Homo sapiens: one gene and its partners. The protein of the gene in region 1 interacts with the protein of each later gene in a biochemical or structural test. Each region holds a gene or a part of one and is shown in the gene's direction. Other genes may lie near its edges. The genes, in order: CEP135, SASS6 and CPAP.

What was found.
Region 2: the proteins of CEP135 (region 1) and SASS6 form a complex in vitro, tested with the Homo sapiens proteins (one study listed by IntAct).
Region 3: the proteins of CEP135 (region 1) and CPAP form a complex in vitro, tested with the Homo sapiens proteins (one study listed by IntAct).

Annotation. Positions count from the first base shown.
Region 1 is NC_000004.12:55,945,059-55,952,055, forward strand, and holds the start of CEP135 (centrosomal protein of 135 kDa), read left to right. Parts: upstream 1-3,886; 5' UTR 3,887-4,001; intron 4,002-6,997. UniProt on the Homo sapiens protein: Centrosomal microtubule-binding protein involved in centriole biogenesis. Acts as a scaffolding protein during early centriole biogenesis.
Region 2 is NC_000001.11:100,115,918-100,123,030, reverse strand, and holds part of SASS6 (spindle assembly abnormal protein 6 homolog), read left to right. Parts: intron 1-546; coding exon 547-651; intron 652-1,481; coding exon 1,482-1,653; intron 1,654-2,571; coding exon 2,572-2,637; intron 2,638-3,893; coding exon 3,894-4,013; intron 4,014-7,113.
Region 3 is NC_000013.11:24,905,782-24,912,894, reverse strand, and holds part of CPAP (centrosomal P4.1-associated protein), read left to right. Parts: coding exon 1-313; intron 314-825; coding exon 826-949; intron 950-2,808; coding exon 2,809-3,105; intron 3,106-4,768; coding exon 4,769-4,877; intron 4,878-5,701; coding exon 5,702-5,804; intron 5,805-5,934; coding exon 5,935-7,113. UniProt on the Homo sapiens protein: Plays an important role in cell division and centrosome function by participating in centriole duplication. Inhibits microtubule nucleation from the centrosome. Involved in the regulation of slow processive growth of centriolar microtubules.

The DNA of each region.
Region 1 (6,997 bases):
TGTTCCTAAGCTAGTATGGGGAGGGATCGCTAGGACCCGTGACTCTTGTCCTTCTTTTGAAGCTTCAAGTGCACTTGGACCTGGATTATAGGAAGGTGGCTATTGTTCACCCTGACACATATGTACCCCTTGCAAGAGGGGGTTATCTACAGTATTCGGCTCAGTTTTAGGAGTTTCTTTCTGTGGAGAAGTGCTGGGAGCTTTGAAAATGGTAGGCTTTTGGTATAGGGCCATGAAGGCTTGCACATATGGTATTTCTGACCATTTGCCTTGTCTCTTACAAAATAGTTCTAATTGGAGGATGGTGTCATAATTGAGACTTCCATTGACTGGCCATTGCTCTTGACTCCCTAGCTGAAATTGAGGCCAAAAGGTGTTACAATAAAATATTAGGCATTTCTTTCACAGGTTTTCAGGGTCAAATTGATTCCAATGATTGAAGATGCAGCCAAGAGGGGAGTCAGATAGGACTGAAGGAATGTTTCCCAACACTAATCTGTGGAAAAGAAGAAGGGAGTTGTCAGGCCTCTGAGCCCAAGCCAAGCCATTGAATCCCCTGTGACTTGCACATATATGCCCAGATGGCCCAAAGTAACTGAAGAATCACAAAAGAAGTGAAAATACCCTGCCCCGCCTTAACTGATGACATTCCACCACAAAAGAAGTGAAAATGGCCAGTCCTTGTCTTAAGTGATGACATTACCTTGTGAAAGTCCTTTTCCTGGCTCATCCTGGCTCAAAAAGCTCCCCCACTGAGCACCTTGCGACCCCCACTCCTGCCCACCACAGAATAACCCCTTTGACTGTAATTTTCCTTTACCTACCCAAATCCTATAAAACTGCCCCACCCCTATCTCCTTTCGCTGACTCTCTTTTCAGACTCAGCCTGCCTGCACCCAGGTGAAATAAACAGCCTTATTGCTCACACAAAACCTGTTTGGTGGTCTCTTCACATGGACGCGCATGAAAGGAGTCTCATAGGTTCATGAGTTTACATCTAGAGTCTCCCTTAAGGGTGTCCCCTATTGAAGGATCTGGACTGTAATTTTGGTCCATTTGGGCATCCCCCAAATGGACCTGTCCTCTGAGTGCCAGACGTCTCTAGCCATAGTGGGCACCAGTGCCATTTGAAGAAGGATCCTGCCATAATTGGTGACCTATGATAAGTTTCCCTTTAGTTCCTGGGTGTAACCTTTGGCTTCTAGTATCCCTGTAGCTGGCCAAAAGAGTTTCTTCCCAAATGGTTTCCTTAATTATTGTAGTAACTCTAGTTTGAAGGGCAAGGAATTGCAGACTGCCTAGTTTAAATTTGTTATTAGAGACTGGCCTCTCAATAAGATAGTAGAGTGCCCTCTGACTATATGAGATAAACCAGGCACAGTAATTTCCCCATGGATCCACTGTGCAATTTATGCAATGATCCGAGAGTCTCCACCAGGAGTTTTCTTTTAGCACCAGATGTACTAAACTAAAACAATCTAGATCTGATCCCTCACAGAAGAAGCAGGGTACTCTCATTATCCAGGTGGTTGGCCCTAATCTTCAGGCTGATGCTAATCCTTGGGCTCCCCACAGTCAGTTACCTGTTGTCCTGGCCCTTTGGGTTGGGGGGAGATCTCTAATTGGTCAAAACATGATATCCCAACACAAATGAAGAAAAGAAAAAAAAAATAAAACAAGCAGCAAGGCTGGGCACGGTGGCTGGCTGGGCATGGTGGCTCATGCCTGTAATACCAGGACTTCGGGAGGCCGAGGTGGGCGGATCACCTGAGGTCAGGAGTTCGAGACCACCCTGGCCAACATGGTGAAACTCTGTCTCTACTAAAAATACAAAAATTAGCCGGGCATGGTGGTGGGTGCCTGTAATCCCAGCTACTCAGGAGGCTGAGGCAGGAGAATTGCTTGATCCCGGGAGGTGAAGGTTGCAGTGAGCCGAGATCATGCCACTGCACTCCAGCCTGGGTGACAGAGCAAGACTCCATCTCAAAACAAAAACAAAAACAAAAACAAAAACAAAAACAAAAAAACAAGCAGCAAATAATGTAATAATTATAGCCACACAAACATGCACCTCACTGTTGCAGGGATTGATCTTGTACCCCGTGGGACCCATCTGTTCCATTCCCCAATCAGGTTATCCTGTCACGTTGAGGCAGGAATTTAAAGAAAGTTTTGTACTGCATTTACTCACTCTAAGGATAGTAACAAGCAAGGCTATAGGAAGGTCATGGTGACCTAGTCTAAGAAGCCAGGAATGAGCTCCAAACACCCCTGAGCAATGGTTAAGAAAAACAAATTCCTTTACTGTTTCTCTTTCCTTAGACCATTAATTATGATTATTTTTGCCTATGTTTAGAAAGATTTGTAGGTTCCTGTTTTTCTTTTGACGCAGCTGCAAGGCCACCAGCTAAGCAAAGCCAAAAGTTATGCAAATTTCAGCAGTTATGCTATAGATTACAAAACCTGTCACTGTGTGATTTACTGCCTTGGTTCTGCTTTTTTAATTTAGCCTATATAAGCCAAGCTCTGTCTTTGTTCAGGGCTCAGCTTTTTGGATGCAAATCCACGGAGCCAGTGCACACCTTAATAAAATCCTCCTGCTCCACCCATTGGTCTTTCTGGTCCTCTGCTTTCCCGCAACAATGGGAGTCTTCAAGCGGCCAGTGCCTTTTTCGTTCTTAACTGCCCAATCCGTGCCAGCAGAAGGCAGCTTTAAACCAAAGTGAAAGAGCTGAAGCAAAAAAGAAAGAAAATAAAAAGTCCCAGTTCTTCTGGGCTTACCTCCTGGCTGGCTCACCAAAATATGTTACCAGATTGGAAGTTGGGAGTTCCAGGTTCTTGGTGTTATGAACAAAGAATTGGATGAGACACACAAATAACCACCCCACAAGATTTATTAAGCAAAGAATATACCAGAGAGAGGAACGGGCTTATCTTCAAGTGGTGTCAGCCCTGGATTAATATAGCCTTTGTTCTTTTATACCCACTTCCTACACTTCTTTAACTCTAGGGAGGGGATTTCCTATAATTGTCATATCTGTTTTCTTGTTTTTTCTCTCTTAGTGCGCCTGCGTGAGCTTGCCATAATTTTAAGTGTATGTATGATAGGCATTCCATAGGTATGAGCTGGTCAGTCTTCTGACTTCCTTCCCTATTCTGCTGCCTCAGAAGGCCTATTTGGGAGAAAAGTAAACAGGAAAGAATGAAACTCCCTCTGACTGTCTGGGAAATTTTCAGGGGAGAAATGGAATTCTAGGATTTTACTATGTGTTTTCCATCTGTGAGTGGACTATAACGGTTTATTTCAATTTAATTCCACTCACAAATGTTTTGCTGAGTAGAATAGTCTCTGACTCAAGGAATTCACATTTGGGGGCGGCAGAGAGAGACGGATCAACAAATGATTGTATTTTGATGGATGAATTCTATGGTTCTACAGAGAGCCTGCGGGAGATACTATTGTGGGATAATTAATTGCATTGGGTGGTTGTCAGGGAAAGTTGCAGAGACAACGTGATATCTGCGTTTGGGGATTACGTGGTGAGCAGGCGTTCACCTTGCAGGTGAAGGCTACTCCGCTGCAGGGACCGGTACTGGGGCGGCGTTTGTTCCCCGCACGCAGTAGGTGATCCACACCTCCCGCCGACAGGAGGAAGAGGATGCCAGCTCAGGCACCAGCTGAGGTTTGGCATTTGCTGGCCGCGGGCGCCGACCTCCAGGGGGCGCCGTGGCCTCGCGCTGTCCGGGCCGTTGCATTTCCGGGCACTGGGGCTCCGCCATCGTCGCCAAGCGCGTCCCCGCCGCGAGCCGCTAATCGTCCGCCGCTCCCGTTACCGGGGCAACCGCGGCGCCTCCTCCGTGTCGGCCCCGATCGTCCCTCCGCGCCATTTTCAAACTGCTCTAGCGCCGGAGCCCGTGCCTGGACGGAAGGAGCTAGTGGGGGACTCGAGGCCTGAGGGCAATGCGGCTGGAGGCGGAGGCAACGGCGGCTGGAGCTGCCGGTGAGTCCGGATGTGGGAGCCAGAGGGCCAGCTGCGGCGGTGGTGGCGCCTTCGCCTTCTGGGCGGTACCCGCGGGCCGGGCTCGGGCACTGCCGGGAGGCCGCGCGGCCGCGGGAGGAAGTGAGGCCAGGCCGGGTCAGACCGGGCGGGGAGGGGCGCGGGGACTCTTCCCACCCACCCCGCTCCCACACCCCCTTCCCGTCAACACCCGACGGTAAAGTTGCAAACCGGAGATTGGGTGGAGGAGAGCTTGGGCCGACTCGTCAAGGAGCGTCTGTGTGGGCCGTGCAGACAGGCTTGCTGTTGACCAATGGATAGATTTAAACATTAAAATGCCTTCTCAGTGTAGCAGTCATCCATGCTCTTTGTAACAAAAATGTCGCAAAGCGTAGGACGACAGCCTTTAATTAACCTTTGCCCAGCTCCTTTGAAGCCTCTCCACTGCTTTCCAGCCTTTACTACTTTGAGTTCAATAAGAAAGGACTCTGAGATAACCACAGCTAACGGGTTTCTTTGTTGTCGTTTGGGGTTTCTTGTTTATCTTCTTAAGCCCTGTGCACACATACATACAGCATTAAATGTACTGGTTTTGAGACGCCAACCCCCAGAGTTAAGTAGATGGATACTTCTACACATATATGTATGGGGGACCCCCAAACCTAACCTTTTATGTTGCTTTGCTAGAAACTTAGAGTATAGCCACCATATTTGGATGGGGGTTATGGGGAAAGACAACAGTTCATGGGTGGGGACGGCCTAACATGTTTCTATCTGGGAGGATTTTAATCCGTCCTGTGTATTGAGGCCCTGGCCATGATTTATTGATTCATATTCATTCTCATTCTCTCCCCTCCAAAGCAGGATGTGAGGAGGTATTATCTCTGGGTAACTGGAGTTGGTAGCAAAGAGGGGAAATGTTTTGAGTGGTGCACCGCCTGTAAGTTTACACCCTGCTAGTAATACACCTGGATTTGTCAGGTGTATTTCTGATGTCTGCAGGAATTTCCCTAAAAACCCTGCATCACTTAGGTGTCTCTTGTGGAAAGAACCTAGGAAATCTATGAGGAAGCCATTCAAAAAAAGTTAACAAGAGCAAAGAGAAAGATATACAGAAAGGAGTGACCAAGGAGAGACTCAGGAGACCTGGTCTCTGATGACTGCCCACCTACTTTGTGGCCCCGTGGTTTTGGAAGAGTTACTTTCTTGAGGCAGCCTTTCCTCATGTTTAAGTAGGGATAATATCATTGGTCTTTCTCCCTCACAGGGTAGCTGTGAGGATCGACTTTTACATGTATGCTCATGCATGTAATGCATTTTTTATATATTGTGAAGAACAACAGATGTAAAACAAAATTTTTATTTGGCTTAGAAATACGAGTACCATGACTACAGTTAGTTAGCAAAGGTTAGAAAAGAGCAGAGTTTCTAAAGAAATGATCTTTGGGCTGAGCATATTGGCTCACACCTGTAAACCTAGCACTTTGGGAGGTAGAGGTGGGAGAATACCTTGAGCTCAGGAGTTGGAGACCAGCCTGGGCCACATAGCAAGACCCTGTCTCTAAAAAAGGTAACAATTAAAATAAAAAAAAAAAAGAAATGCTCTTTGGATAACTCCATTTTAGGGCAGATTGATAGGAATATATTCATAAATATTTAAAAAGACAAAGATAAAAACTTGAACAGAGGTACTTATGTGTGTCTTTTTTTTTAATTGAAGTGAAATTTACATGATGAAATGCATAGAGTTTAAGTGTACTATTTGAAAAGTAAATTCTCTAAATGTATACACTTGTGTAACCACTACCCCAATCAATGTAATATTTTCATTACCCTAAAAAGTTGTGTCTTAACTCTTAACGGGCAATCTGCAGCCCGCCTCACCTCCCCAGACAACTCTTGTTTTAATTTCTGGCCCCATAGTTTTAATTTTACTTGTTCATCAACTTCATGTAAATGGAGTCATACAGTATTTGTCTGGTTTCTTTTGCTCAAATAATGTTTTTGAGATTCATCCATGCTGTTGATGTGTATCAGTAGTTCCTTTTATCCCTTAGTATTGCACTGTATAAATATATCATACTTTACCCCTTCTGCTGTTGATGGGGGTTTAGGTTGTTTCCAGTTTGGGGCTACTATGAGTAAAGCTGTGAACATTCTTGTAGAGTATTTTTGTGAATATTTTTTATTTCTATAAATACCTGGGAATAAAATCACAGGGTTATAGTCCAGAAGTATGTTTAACTTTATAAAAAAACTGCCAGACTTTTTCCAAAGTGATTTTACATTCCTGTCAGCAATGTGTGAAGATTCCAGTTGCTCCAGATCTTTGTCGACATTTGCTATTGTCGGTCCTTGTAATTTTAGTCATTCTAGTTTGGGAGAAAATGTACCTTGTTGTTTTAATTTGTATTTCCATGTTGACTACTGTTGAGCACCATTTCATATCATCATTCCCATTCAGACACCTATGCGAGGTGTCTGTTCGAATCTTTAGCGCAACTAAATTACAGTTTTAGCCCAAATTAATGTTCTTATTGGGATGTTTGTCTTATTATTGAGTTGTAAGAATTCCTTTTATATTCCCTATACAAATCCTTTGTCAGATATTGTGAATATTTTCTCCCACTCTTTGGTTTGCCTTCTCTATTTTAATTGAGTATTTTGATGAGCAGACATTTTAAATTTTGATGAAGTCCAATTTATCAAATTTATCTTTTATGTTTAGTGCTTTTAAAAGAGGCCTCTCTGAGAAGTCTCTGCCTACTTCAGGCTTAGGAAAAATCTTTGTTTTCTCCTAGAAGCTTTAGGATTTTAACTTTTACATTTAGTTGTATGAGGAAGTATTTATTTTAATGCAGTAACAGGAATATCATAAGCATTGGCTTTAAATCTGAATTTTCCAGAAGGCTACCTACCTGAAGAAAAACAAAAAATAATTGCTTCATATTAAAATAATTTTTTCTTCTTATTGTGAAACAACAATCATAGCTATAATA
Region 2 (7,113 bases), on another chromosome or scaffold:
GAATTCTGCTTAAAACACCTGTGAAGTTTGAAGCTTTTGCTGAATTTATTGATTTTTTTTCCCATTGAATACGTTCTATAAAAATCAGAGTTCCTTAGCTTAGTTCTTGATTATAACAAGCGTTAGTAAATTTGAAAAAAGAATCCTTCAGGATGCTAATTATAATTAAAGATAGTAATTGGCCAGGCACGGTGGCTCACGCCTGTAATCCCAGCACTTTGGGCGGCCGAAGAGGGCGGATCATGAGGTCAGAAGTTCGAGACTAGTCTGACCAACATGGTGAAACCCTGTCTTAACTAAAAATACAAAAATTAGCCAGGTATGGTGGCATGTGCCTGTAATCCCAGCTACTCAGGAGGCTGAGGAAGGAGAATCTCTTGAACCTGGGAGGCAGAGGTTGCAGTGAGCCAAGATTGCACCACTGCACTCCAGCCTGGGTGATGGAGTGAGCCTCTATCTCAAAAAAAAAAAAAAAAAAAAAGGCACCAAAACAAAACAAAGTTAATTAAAATTTTTAAAAAATTTCTTTTCCTTTCTTCTGTATAGTTTAAAATTCCAGCAAGGTCTTCTGGTAGACTTCTTAGCTTTCCCACAAAAATTTATAGATCTCCTTCAGCAATGTACTCAAGAACATGCCAAAGAAATTCCAAGGTAAGTTGCATGAGAATGCTACATTATTAAATTTAATTCAAGACAGACTCTTCTTTGAAACACAAGTTGATGGCAAAATCTTTTCCGTTTATTATGACTATCCCTGTTTATTTTTAGAACTGGGGTTAGGCCTCCATTAAATCTCAGACTTTAAGGCATCTTGATTAAAATCAGAAATATTTCTTAATTTTCATGTCTTGACAAAGGCACTAAAGTCATCCGAAATATTTAGCAGCATCAAATATTTGGTTTTATAATGATATTGGAAAAAGGGAAGACTAAGATTGTATGTGTGTATGGTGCTAACGCCTGATTCTTTTACTGTAAAGTTCACCATCAACCTTTTATTTATTGGTTTTATCAGTTGACGATTGTTGTTGAATCAGTTATTTCATTAGGAAGAACAAAATGATGCTTCTGTATAATTTTTTCTATATTAAGTATAATTCTTCTATAAAGAAGAACTTTTCCTCAGCAATTAGGGCTATTTGATTACTCAGAAAATTCATAAAGGATAAATGCTTAATTCTTGCATTTAAATTGTCAATTTTTAGAGTAAAGAGCTGGTAGTCTACTTTTGTGGCACTCAGTGAATTTTTGTTTCTAGTTTTTGCTTTTTCTCTCATTTGTTTCTCATGAACTCATGGACTTTTATGTAGTCACTGTGTTTCAGTCAATCTTTTCTTTTTTTTGCCCAATTTATCTTTTACCATTGGGAGTCCTCAATGTGCTCCCTTTCCTGAGCTTTCTTAAGTAGAGAAGCTTCTGATTCAGTGAGAGATTTTCACTATCTCTTAAGTGTGTTATAATGTAACATTTTCTTTTCAAAGGTTTTTGCTACAGTTAGTTTCTCCAGCAGCTATTTTGGATAACTCACCTGCATTTTTAAATGTGGTAGAGACAAATCCTTTTAAGCATCTTACACACCTCTCACTAAAACTTTTACCTGGAAATGATGTGGAGATAAAGAAATTTCTCGCAGGCTGTTTGAAATGTAGCAAGGTAAGATTTAAATTTAAGTTATTCTTTTAACAAAATAAGTATCAATGGTCTTTGATAAATTATTGAAGAGATACATTGCCATAAGTTTTTGTTTTCTAAATAAAGTTTTATGAAATATAACGAATTTATTTTACTGTTTCTTATTTAGTCAAGGTATAGTCGGGATGGATCTGGACCAGGAATTGAGAAGCTTAGGTCTCAGGGTTTTTACCAATCGTGTGATTTTGGACAGGTCACTTAAACTCTTCTGTCATGGTTTCATCAACTGGTAGACATGTATGGAAATAGCTACCCTATCTAGCCCATCTTTTTTTTTTTTTTTTTTTTTGAGACGGAGTCTCGCTCTGTCGCCCAGGCTGGAGTGCAGTGGCGGGATCTCGGCTCACTGCAAGCTCCGCCTCCCGGGTTCACGCCATTCTCCTGCCTCAGCCTCCCAACTAGCTGGGACTACAGGCGCCCGCCACTACGCCCGGCTAATTTTTTGTATTTTTAGTAGAGACGGGGTTTCACCGTTTTAGCCAGGATGGTCTCAATCTCCTGACCTCGTGATCCGCCCGCCTCGGCCTCCCAAAGTGCTGGGACTACAGGCGTGAGCCACCGCGCCCGGCCCTAGCCCATCTTTAATGAGATAAGATATATGGAAATGTCTTGAAAATTATAAAGTGCTATATGGCACAAGGAAACAACATAGGGATGCTGCTTGAGTTTTTAGAGTCTTTCTAGTCAAATGCTATAGATCAGTGCATGTCAAACTTTAAATTATCTGGGGATCTTGTTAAAATGATTTAGATTTGAGATGGAGCCTAAGAATCTGCATTTCTAACAGGCTTCCAGGATGATGCTGATGCTATACTTTGAGTAGCATGGCTATAGATGATTACATTGTAAACTGTGTAATTTTATTATTTTTATGAATAGGAAGAAAAATTATCATTGATGCAATCACTAGATGATGCTACTAAGCAACTGGACTTTACACGAAAGGTAATTCAAATTTCATTTTGTCTTTGTAAGTCATCCAGACATTGGCACTGAATTGCTTCCTTGACTCAGTTCCAAGCTTTTATGTATTTTCTTTCAAAGCATGCTTCCGTTGAATTTCCATTCCTCTTTGCCACCCTTCAACTACCACTTAATTATCTTAATTTGATACTTTCTCTTGTACATACTTGATTTTACACAAACATTTCTGTATCCCCAATATATAACATGTTCCCTCGAGTCTTCATTAAATAAGATATGTATGTTTCTGTCATATATTAGTTCTCCACTCCCCACTTGTTCGCCTCATTCCTCTGGCCTAAATGGCTTTTCAGTTCCTATGCTCTAAACCTTTCCCTTTCTTTGCTATGTTTAGAATTAATTCCTCTGATAGGCTTAGCATCATTTCAGTCATAGCTACAACATTTCTGCCCTAGTTCATGAAATTGAAGGCCAGAGTATCTGTTTTAGCTTGTTCTTGCTTTGCTTTAAAGAACTATCTGAAGCTGGGTAATTTATAAAGAAAAGAGATTTAATTGGTTCATTGTTCTGTAGGCTGTACAAGCATGGCACCAACATCTGCTTGGCTTCTAGTGGGGACCTGAGGAAGTTTACAGTCATGGCTGAAGGCAAAGGGGAGCAGGAGTGTCACATGGTGAGGGTGGGAGGAAGGAGGTACCACATGCTTTTAAACATCCAGATCTCATATGAACTAACTGAATGAGAACTTGCTTAACACCAAGGGAATGGCACTAAACCATTCCCATGATCCAATCACCTACCACAGGCCCTGCCTCCTCTGTTGGGGATTACATTTGAACATGAGACTTGGAGGGGACAGACATCCTAACTATATCGGTATCTGATAATCTGCATGGCCTCATGCAGAAAATACCCCTGCACAATGTGGCCCACAGGGCCATGTTACTGGGTTTTATATGTAAGTGAACTATTCCTTATAATCGACTTGCTTCCCCTTACCCCTCTTTATTGGGTGGTAAAGAGCCAGATTTAATTAAAAGCTTTAATTAAAAGATAGTTAATCTTGACCTGTGGGCCGTTTTGGGTCTAAGATTGTTCTTATTCTAATGTTGATTTCCTAAAATTAAAAAATTTTGTGTAGGAAAAGGCTTTGAACATGTCCTGAAAAGCTATAATTTTGTTTTCTTTAATATCCTTGTAAATATTGCTATATTCTAATCAAAATTATTACATATTAAGGAGCCTATCTTAATATTTTGTGTTAAACTCTAATGTAGACATTAGCAGAAAAAAAACAAGAATTAGATAAGTTACGGAATGAATGGGCGTCACATACAGCAGCCTTGACAAACAAGCATTCTCAGGAACTGACAAATGAAAAGGAAAAAGCCTTGCAGGTAAGAACATTAAAGGAAACTGAAAAAATATCTTTTATTGCTGTTAGTCATTTTGTTAATTTTAAAAGTAATATATGCTTGCTTTAAATTTTCCAAACGTTACAGAAGTATATAAAATAAAAATAAAAATCCTCTCTTTCAAAGTCTTACTACCTAGAGATAATCTATAAACATTTTGATGTATTTTTTTCAGACTTTTCTCTACGTATATGTAAATAATATGTAATTTATAAATATTTGTTTATAAACTTATAACTCTGTAAATTATGTCATTTATATATGTACCCATATAATGGGTTTTTGGTTTTGTTCTATACTAATGGGGTCTTATTGGATATATTGATTGTAACTTTCTTCGCTTAATGTGATACCATTCTGTATCAGTTAAGATATTCCTTTTTAGTGACTGCAGAGTATTCATTTTTTGGGTTTAACTTAAATTATTTAACTACTTGCCTAAATGGTGGTCATTTAAATGCTTCGAAGTTTTGGTTATTTTAAGCAATACTGCAAGAAGCACTCTTAGTTTCTAGAAGTGAAACTGCAACATATCTGTATAAAATATTGATGGATACTGCAAATTTGCCACCCAAAAAGACTAAACCAAATGGAATCCCAAAGATAAGGTAGTGTATAAGGATACTTATTTCCCCATATTCTTGACATTGTTTTTAACCTTCTTAATTCTTCTTTTTTTTTTTTGAGACAAAGTTTTGCTTTTGTTGCCCAGGCTGGAGTGCGGTGGCACAATCTCGGCTCACTGTAACCTCTGCCTCCCGGGTTCAAGCAATTCTCCTGCCTCAGCCTCCCAAGTAGCTGGGATTACAGGCATGTGCCACCATGCCCAGCTAATTTTGTATTTTTAGTAGAGATGGGGTTTCTCCATGTCGGTCAGGCTGGTCTTGAACTCCCAACCTTAGGTGATCTGCCTTGGCCTCCCAAAGTGCTGGGATTACAGGCATGAGCCACTGTGCCCTGCCACGTTCTTAATTCTTAATATATGCCACCTGATCTTAAGGTAGTACTAGTTTTATTTTATATTTCTTGTATTTTTTGTGAAGATAAGCATCTTTTAATACAACTTTTTATCATTTTTATTTCTTCTATGGATTATTTTTTATTTTCTTTTCATCCCTTTTTCTGTGTGGTTATTTTTTTTTTTTCACTGTGCCCTGCCACCTTCTTAATTCTTAATATTTGCCACCTGATCTTAGTACTAGTTTTAGTTTATATTTCTTATATGTTTTGTGAAGATAAGCATCTTTTAATATAACTTTTTATCATTTCATTTCTTCTGTGGATTATTTTTTATTGTCTTTTCATCCCTTTTTCTGTGTGGTTGTTTTTTTTTTCATTTTTTATTTTTAGATGGAGTCTCGCTCTGTCGCTCAGACTGGAGTGCAGTGGCACTATCTCGGCTCACTGCAACCTCTGTCTCCTGGGTTCAAGCAATTCTCCTGCCTCAGCCTCCTAAGTAATTGGGATTACAGGCGCATGCCACCACCATGCCTGGCTAATTTTAGTATTTTTAGTAGAGATGAGTTTAACCCTGTTGGTCAGGCTGGTCTTGAACTCCTGACCTCGTGGTCCACCCACCTTGGCCTCCCAAAGTGCTGGGATTACAGGCATGAGCCACCATGCCCAGCTGTGGTTGTTATTTTCTACTGCTTTGTAGTATGAATTCCTTTTCTACCTTTCGTACTATAGCTTCTTTTTTTTTTTTTTTGAGACAGAATTTCGCTCTTGTTGCCCAGGCTGGAGTGCAATGGCATGATTTGGCTCATTGCAACCTTTGCCTCCCAGGTTCAAGCAATTCTCCTACCTCAGCCTCCCAAGTAGCTGGAATTACACATGTGCCACCATGCCCGGCTAAATTTTGTATTTTTAGTGAAGACGGGGTTTCACCATGTTGGCCAGGATGGTCTCGAACTCCTGACCTTAGGTGATCTGCCCTCCTCAGCCTCCCAAAGTGCTAGGATTACAGGCGTGAGCCACTGTGCCCAGCCTTATAGCTTCTTTAATATTACATTTTATTGTTGTTTTTATGTACTTTACTAGATGCTTGCTCTTAAGAGTACAGCTTGATGATTTTTTTAAATGTGTAACTTTCACCCAAATTAAGATAAAGAAATTGGACCACCCCTCTAGGTTCCCTTGTATGGCTTCCTAGTCCTAACAGTAGTCCATAGGAGGTTATCATACTTCTGACTTACATCATCATTCATTAGTTTTGCCAATTCTTGAACTTTGTGTAAATGGAATCATATATGTTTGCATATGTCTTTCTTCACTCAGCATAATATTTCTGAAATTCACCTATTTTCTATTGTTTCCTTTTATTGTTATATGAATCTGCCATAATTTATTTTCCTATTGGTAGGCATTTGAGTTGTTTCTGGTATTTTGCTATTATTAGTTAAACTGCTATTAACATTCTTGTACTTATCTTTTTGTGGACACATGCACTCATTTTTCTTGGATATTTATCTATTATTGGAATGGCTAGGTTGTAGTATATATAGGCATATGTTTAGCTTTGGCAGAAACTACCAGTTTCCCAAAGTAGGTAGGTATACCGGTTTACATTGCCATTCTATGGGTATGTAATACTATCTGATAATAATGAACACTTCTTCATATACATATTTATCACTTGAATATTCTCTTTTCAAGTGCCCATTCAAGTTGTTAGCATGTTTAATTTGCCTATTATTAGTATTATTATAGATTTGTAGGAATTTGTATATTCTAGACATGAGTCCTTTGTCAGATGTATGCATTGTGAATATTTTCATTGTCTATAGCTTGCCTTTTCACTTTTTATTGGTATAAATTAAGGATATACACCTTATCTATCATGTACATTATAAACATTTCTCCCAGCCTGTCATTTGCCAGCATCTTTTGCCGTATATAGTTTTTTTAATTTGAATGTCATCAAATCTGTCAGTCATTGCCTTTATGGCTTAAGATTTCATTTCACATTTGGAAAGTGTTTCCCACCCGAGGACTATGAAAAAATTCTCCTATATTCTAATATTTGTTTAATTTTCTTGTTATATTTAGCTTTTTAATCTACTTGGAATATAATTTTGTGGAG
Region 3 (7,113 bases), on another chromosome or scaffold:
GCGAGCAGCTGTGGACATTTCTACCAGCTTTCCTATTAAAGGCACACATTTTTCTGATAGCTTCAGCTTTATAAATGAAGAAGATTCACTTCTTGAAGAACAGAAGTTGGAGTCAAACAACCCTTACAAACCACAGTCAGATAAATCTGAAACCCATACAGCCTTTCCTTGCATTAAAAAGGGACCACAGGTAGCGGCATGTCACAGTGCTCCTGGACACCAGGAAGAAAACAAAAATGACTTCATCCCAGATCTTGCGAGTGAATTCAAAGAAGGGGCTTATAAAGACCCACTTTTTAAAAAACTTGAACAGGTACAATAGGATTTGGCCTACTGTGAATTTATGTCATTGCAGGTTTCTGTTTATGTAATAAAGTCATTTGTTCTAGGTCTTCTTGTTTTTTCCCCTTCACTCTGAAATCCTCAGAATACCAGATTTTGCCCTTTGTCTAATGTGAAACATTTAAGTGTGTTTAATTAGCACTTATAATAACTTTAAGTTGTTACCTCATTTGGCGAAAAGTAAGAAATGGTTGATCAAGTATTAGGGGAAAAAATTGGATGATGTACTGATGCCCATCCTATTTTAACAATCAAAGGATTTATATGACTGTTTCGGTTTCTTAGTTGAGATAGTTGATAAGATTTCCTTCGTAAGGATATGAGTTTTAGATTTTCGGTGGCTGATTTAGTTACCTAGGGGTCCCTGTCTAAAACTTCTTACCAGGAAAGATAGGAGGAGGGAGATGGGAGGAATTAAGGGAACGAGGTGTCCATGAAGAATTGTAAAGTTGATTTAATAAAGTTAATTTTGTATTTAAAAAGCTGAAAGAAGTACAACAGAAGAAGCAGGAACAATTGAAGAGGCAACAGTTGGAGCAACTACAGAGACTCATGGAAGAACAAGAGAAGCTGCTCACCATGGTGTCTGGGCAGTGCACACTTCCAGGTATGCTTTGCCTACACAGGGCCTCAGTATAATGCACATTTCTTACCTGTAGTTGTTTGACACGTTATTTCTATCGTTCCTGTATCATGTGTTGTGAACTCCAGTTTCTTTAAAGGCTAGCCCGATAAATGTGAAATGGTAGAGTTGTAATACAACTGGAACAAGAAGGAGCTGCCGCATTCTGGTGTGCGCATGCCCTGCTTTAAGGCATTGATGTTTATTCATTAAAAAAAAAAAAAAAATGAGCTGGGTGTGGTGGTCCATGCCTGCAGTCCTAGCTACTCTGGAGACTGAGGTGGGAGGATTGCTTGAGCCCAGGAATTTGAGGCTGCAGCAGTGAGCTATAATGGCACCACTGCATTCCAGCCGGGCAACAGAGTGAGACCCTGTCCCCCCAAAAAAGGTCCAATAGAAGAAAAGTCAGATTTGGCCTAGAGCTGCTGCTGGTATCCAACCCCTGCCTGATGAATGAAAACTGTTGGGTGTCATGAAGGTAAATACATGTAGGAGCCACTCTGTTCAGCTGAAGAACCATACCAAAGATATTTTCTGTGGTAGGAGATGACAGTATTCTGTTGTGTGACCCATCAGTTAACGGAAAGCGTCACGTGCCAATCAGGAAAGAAAACTGGAAATGTGACCTGGAGCAGTGGTTTGAAAGTTTCTTGACCACACTCTGTAGTAGTAAAAATGTTTAAAATCGTGACTCATAATGACAAAGCAATTTCATGTCATCAGTCCTTATTGGTGTTCCTGGCATGTAGTGAGGACATTTTCTGTCTTGTTTATTCTAGTTCTATATCATTTTAAAAAATGCTACATCCGATAATAAAATTATTATAGATTGTGTCCCATAGTTTGAAAAAAACTGAGGTTGGAGCCATGTGTTTGCTTCTTTTAAGAAATATACTTTACTGACCCAGGAAAGCACCTGTTCTGCTCAGAGATTATGCTGGGCATTGAGAATACAAGGAAAAAAAGACTTGGCAAGTGAGTGAGGCTGGGTGCAGGGGTCAGGTGGGGTGTGGTCATGAGAAATTGTAGCACATAAACAATGGTTTAGGGAATTTGGATGTTTATCTTAGAGAATATAGAAAACATTTGTGTGCCTTAAAATAGTTGAATGGCTTAGGGTTTCTTTATGGAATACATACAAAGAATAATCAAGATCACTTAAATAACAGCTGTGATACTTTTAAAGGTAGAACCGCACTATGACAGAATGACAGGGAAGCTGATTTCAAAGTTATTTACATAAGAACTAGCCTCATGCAGTCATGGAGCAGTTTGCTTTGGAGCAGTAGTTTTCAAATATTTTGGTCTCAGGATCCCTTAGGATTCTTAAATATTTGAGAGCCCCAAAGAACTTTTGTTATATGGGCTGTATTTACCAATAACTTACTGCATTAGAAATTTAAACAGGCTAGACATAGTGGCTCACACCTGTAATCCCAGTACTTTGGGAGGCCAAGGCCGGCAGATCACCTGAGGTCCGGAGTTCAAGACCAGCCTGGCCAACATGGTGAAACCCTATCTGTTCTAAAAATATAAAAAATTAGCTGGGCGTGGTGGCACACGCCTGTAATCCCAGCTACTCAGGAGGCTGAGGCACGAGAATCACTTGAACCCAAGAGGTGGAGGTTGCAGTGAGCTGAGATCGCACCACTGCACTTCAGCCTTGGCGACAGAGCGAGACTGTCTCAAACAATCAATGGTTTTGTTAAACACCATTTCCTAATAAAGGGAAAAAATACTGTTGTCACTGTGGAGAAGTCTTTGTGGGGTGGGGGTCACTACTGGGGATAAAAGAGAAAATGTTGAAGGAAGTCATCAGCTTTGTTGCATTTCTTAATTGTAAGGTTTGAGTTTACTGCCTGATGATCAGAGCCAGAAGCACAGGTCTCCAGGAAATACCACCACTGGAGAGAGAGCCACATGCTGCTTCCCATCATATGTCTACCCGGACCCAACCCAGGAAGAAACATACCCGTCCAACATTTTATCCCATGAGCAAAGCAACTTCTGTAGAACTGCTCATGGAGATTTTGTCTTAACTTCAAAACGTGCGTCTCCTAATTTATTTTCTGAGGCACAGTATCAAGAAGCACCTGTGGAAAAAAATAATTTAAAAGAAGAAAACCGTAACCATCCTACAGGTGAGCTACTTATGTTTCTCTCTTCTGTGCTTATAGTGTTACTAAGTTGTCCTAAGATGAAGCCTTTCCATGTTTTTTCTTTAAAAATTATTTTTTCAGAGATGGAGTGTTGCCGTGTTGCTCAGGCTGGACTCAATCTCCTGGGCACAAGTAATCTTCCCCCATCAGCCTCTCAGGTAGCTGGGACTATAGGCACGTGCTACCCTGCCAGCTCTTTCTGTATGGTTATTTTTTTTTGTCCCCTGTGGCGTGTTTTTTTTTTTTGAGACAGTCTCGCTCTGTCACCCAGGCTGGAGAGCAGTGGCACAATCTCAGCTCACTGCAACCTCTGCCTCTCGGGTTCAAGTGATTCTTGTGTCTCAGCCTCCCAAGTAGCTGGGATTACAGGTATGTGCCACCATGCCCAGATAATTTTGTGTATTTTTAGTAGAGATGGGGTTTCAACATGTTGGCCAGGCTAGTCTCAAACTCCTGGCCTCAAGTGATCTGCCTGCCTTGGCCTCCCAAAGTACTGGGATTGCAGATCTGAGCTACTGCACCCAACCATAATGCCTTGTTCCTAATTTAGAGTTAATTCATCGGTGTGGAAAGCTCAAATATGTTTTTCTTCTTTTTTATACAACATGTTTCCATAGCCTTTTATTTTGGAAAATTTCAAACATCTAGAAAAGTTGAAAGACCACTGCAGTTATTACTGATATACCCACCACCTAGATTGAGCAGTTAATATTTTGCTGTATTTACTTTGTCAGTGTATGTATGTGTATATATATCTTTTACATGTATATCCTTATCTTTACTTCTATATGTGTATAATTTGCTGAACCATTTCACTGAAAATAATATGCAGGTATCTTGTTACTTCATTCCAAATATTTCAGTATGCATCAAGCAAAAATTAGGACATTCATCTGTATAACCACAGTGCTATTATTGTATCTAAAGAAATTAATGATAATTCCTTAATATTCAAGTCCATTTTGGGATTCCCCCAGTTATCCCAAAATATCTTTTAAAGGTGCTTTTTTTTTAAAGGATCCAATCAAATTAATGCATATCCAGTCAAGTTCATGTATTACGTTTGATTCTTACAACTCTTTAGCCTTTTTAATCTCTAGAAAACCCCACACTTTTTTCCTCATGACATTAACCTTTTGAAGAATGTCAAGTGTCTTTATTTTATTTTATTTTATTTTTGAGACAGGGTCTTCCTCTGTCACTTAGGTTGGAGTCCAGTGGCACCATCTTGGCTTACTGCAACCTCTGCTTGCTCTCAGCCTCCCAGGTAGCTGGGATTACAGGCATGTGCCACCACGCCTGGCTAATTTTTTTTTTTTTTTTTTTTTTTTTTTTTGTAGAGACGGGGTTTCGCCACGTTGGCCAGGCTGGGCTCGAATTCCTGGCCTCAAGTGATTCTCCCGCCTTGGCCTCCCAAAGTGCTGGGATTACAGGTGTGAGCCACCACACCCGGCCTCAAGTGTCTTAATTGGAGTTTTGTAGTTTCTCTTAATTATATTAAAGAATTCCTTGAGTGTTGTAAAATCTGTGATATACATTACTTTTAATTAAAAAAATGTTTTAGCATAGTAACTTGTAGAATTCTCATGTTTTAAGACATTAATATGCTTTTCTTGAGCTAAATTGTTCTTAATTTTTATCTCAGGAGAAAGTATCTTATGTTGGGAGAAAGTGACAGAACAGATTCAGGAAGCAAATGATAAGAACTTACAAAAACATGATGATTCCTCAGAAGTGGCTAATATTGAAGAAAGGTATTGTTCGTGTTGAAAGTGAGAAATGTGACTATTTAGTACAATAGCTAGCCTTTATTATTGAACACTTTCTTTGTTTGAAAGATCTATATTTTTCTGGTTTTTGCTTGACTATGCTTTTAAGGTTAAAGATACAACCTATTATGTACTGTCAACAACAAAAGAGGTTGAGGAGATATGTCAAGCTGCCTTGACATTGTATTCTCGAAGCTTTTTCACTTAAGAGAAACATCTGGATAAAATCAATTTTCTCTCAAATAGTTAAATCCTATTTTTGGAGAAGGGAAAAATTAAGTATTGACATCTCCCATTTGGTGTCACTTATCAATTATAATTGCATTATCAGTTTAGTTACAGAATTTTAAAATATGGCAAAGATTAAGTATTTTATATTTTAAGTAAGTTGATTATTTTAAAAATTTATTTCAAAATTTTTAATATAATATGGACAAAATGACTTTTCTGATTATTGTTCTCACATTAAGGGCCTTTCTTAATTAAAAAAATGCATATTTAGTGATCTATTTTTGAAATACATTTTAAAGTTATTTGATGAATATGTTACTCCATGTGTTAATCTGTGGTCGATAGATGGACTTCAGAAGGGTTCTTAGGACTCCAAAGTCATGTGAAGAGTGTTGTATGTTTCTTTATTTTAAGGTGTGGAGAGGGATTGTGGCTTTTGTTAGGTTCTCAAAGGGAGGCACTGATTTTGGGAAAAGTTAGTTCTCCATGTTGTCAAGGGTTTCTATACCAGGCACACTAAGTGTAAAATATTCACACATTATGATTTGCATGTTAAATAACTTTCTGTTTCTAATTAGGCCCATTAAAGCTGCTATTGGAGAAAGGAAACAGACCTTTGAAGATTACTTAGAAGAACAAATTCAGTTGGAAGAGCAAGAACTGAAGCAAAAACAGCTGAAGGTCAGCAATTGTGCTCTTCTGATTAAATCATTCTAAGGCTTTAGAGATTTATCTATAATTTGCCTTAAAAATAACTTTGAGATCACTTGGATATACCAAAATTAATTCAAATATTATTCTTTTATTTTAGGAAGCAGAAGGACCATTGCCAATCAAAGCAAAACCAAAACAACCATTTTTAAAACGAGGAGAAGGTTTAGCTAGATTTACTAATGCCAAATCTAAGTTTCAAAAAGGCAAAGAAAGTAAACTAGTGACTAACCAGAGCACTTCCGAGGACCAGCCGCTGTTTAAAATGGATAGACAGCAACTCCAGCGGAAAACCGCTCTTAAAAATAAAGAGCTGTGTGCAGACAACCCTATCCTTAAAAAGGACAGTAAAGCTAGAACCAAGAGTGGTTCTGTCACCCTCAGTCAGAAGCCGAAAATGCTGAAGTGTAGTAACAGGAAAAGTCTTTCTCCGTCAGGATTGAAAATACAGACGGGGAAGAAATGTGATGGGCAGTTTAGAGACCAGATCAAATTTGAAAACAAAGTCACATCTAATAATAAAGAAAATGTAACTGAGTGTCCAAAACCTTGCGATACTGGCTGCACAGGGTGGAATAAGACACAAGGTAAAGACAGACTTCCTCTTTCAACAGGGCCGGCCAGCCGGCTGGCTGCTAAGAGCCCCATAAGGGAGACCATGAAAGAGTCTGAATCTTCTCTTGACGTTTCTCTTCAGAAAAAGTTAGAGACTTGGGAACGAGAAAAGGAAAAGGAAAATTTGGAATTAGATGAATTTTTGTTTTTAGAACAAGCTGCTGATGAAATATCATTTTCTAGTAATTCCTCATTTGTACTGAAAATCTTAGAAAGGGATCAACAGATCTGCAAAGGTCACCGGATGTCTTCCACCCCTGTCAAAGCTGTGCCACAGAAGACAAATCCGGCAGATCCCATTAGTCATTGTAACCGCAGTGAGGATTTGGACCACACTGCACGTGAGAAGGAGAGTGAGTGTGAAGTCGCACCCAAACAACTTCATTCATTGTCCTCAGCTGATGAATTGAGGGAACAGCCTTGTAAAATCAGGAAAGCCGTCCAAAAGAGCACTTCTGAAAATCAGACTGAATGGAATGCACGTGACGATGAAGGTGTTCCAAATAGTGACAGTAGCACTGACTCTGAGGAACAGCTTGATGTTACCATAAAACCATCGACTGAGGATAGAGAGAGGGGCATCAGCAGCAGAGAGGATAGCCCACAAGTCTGTGATGATAAGGGGCCTTTTAAGGACACCAGGACCCAAGAAGATAAAAGGAGA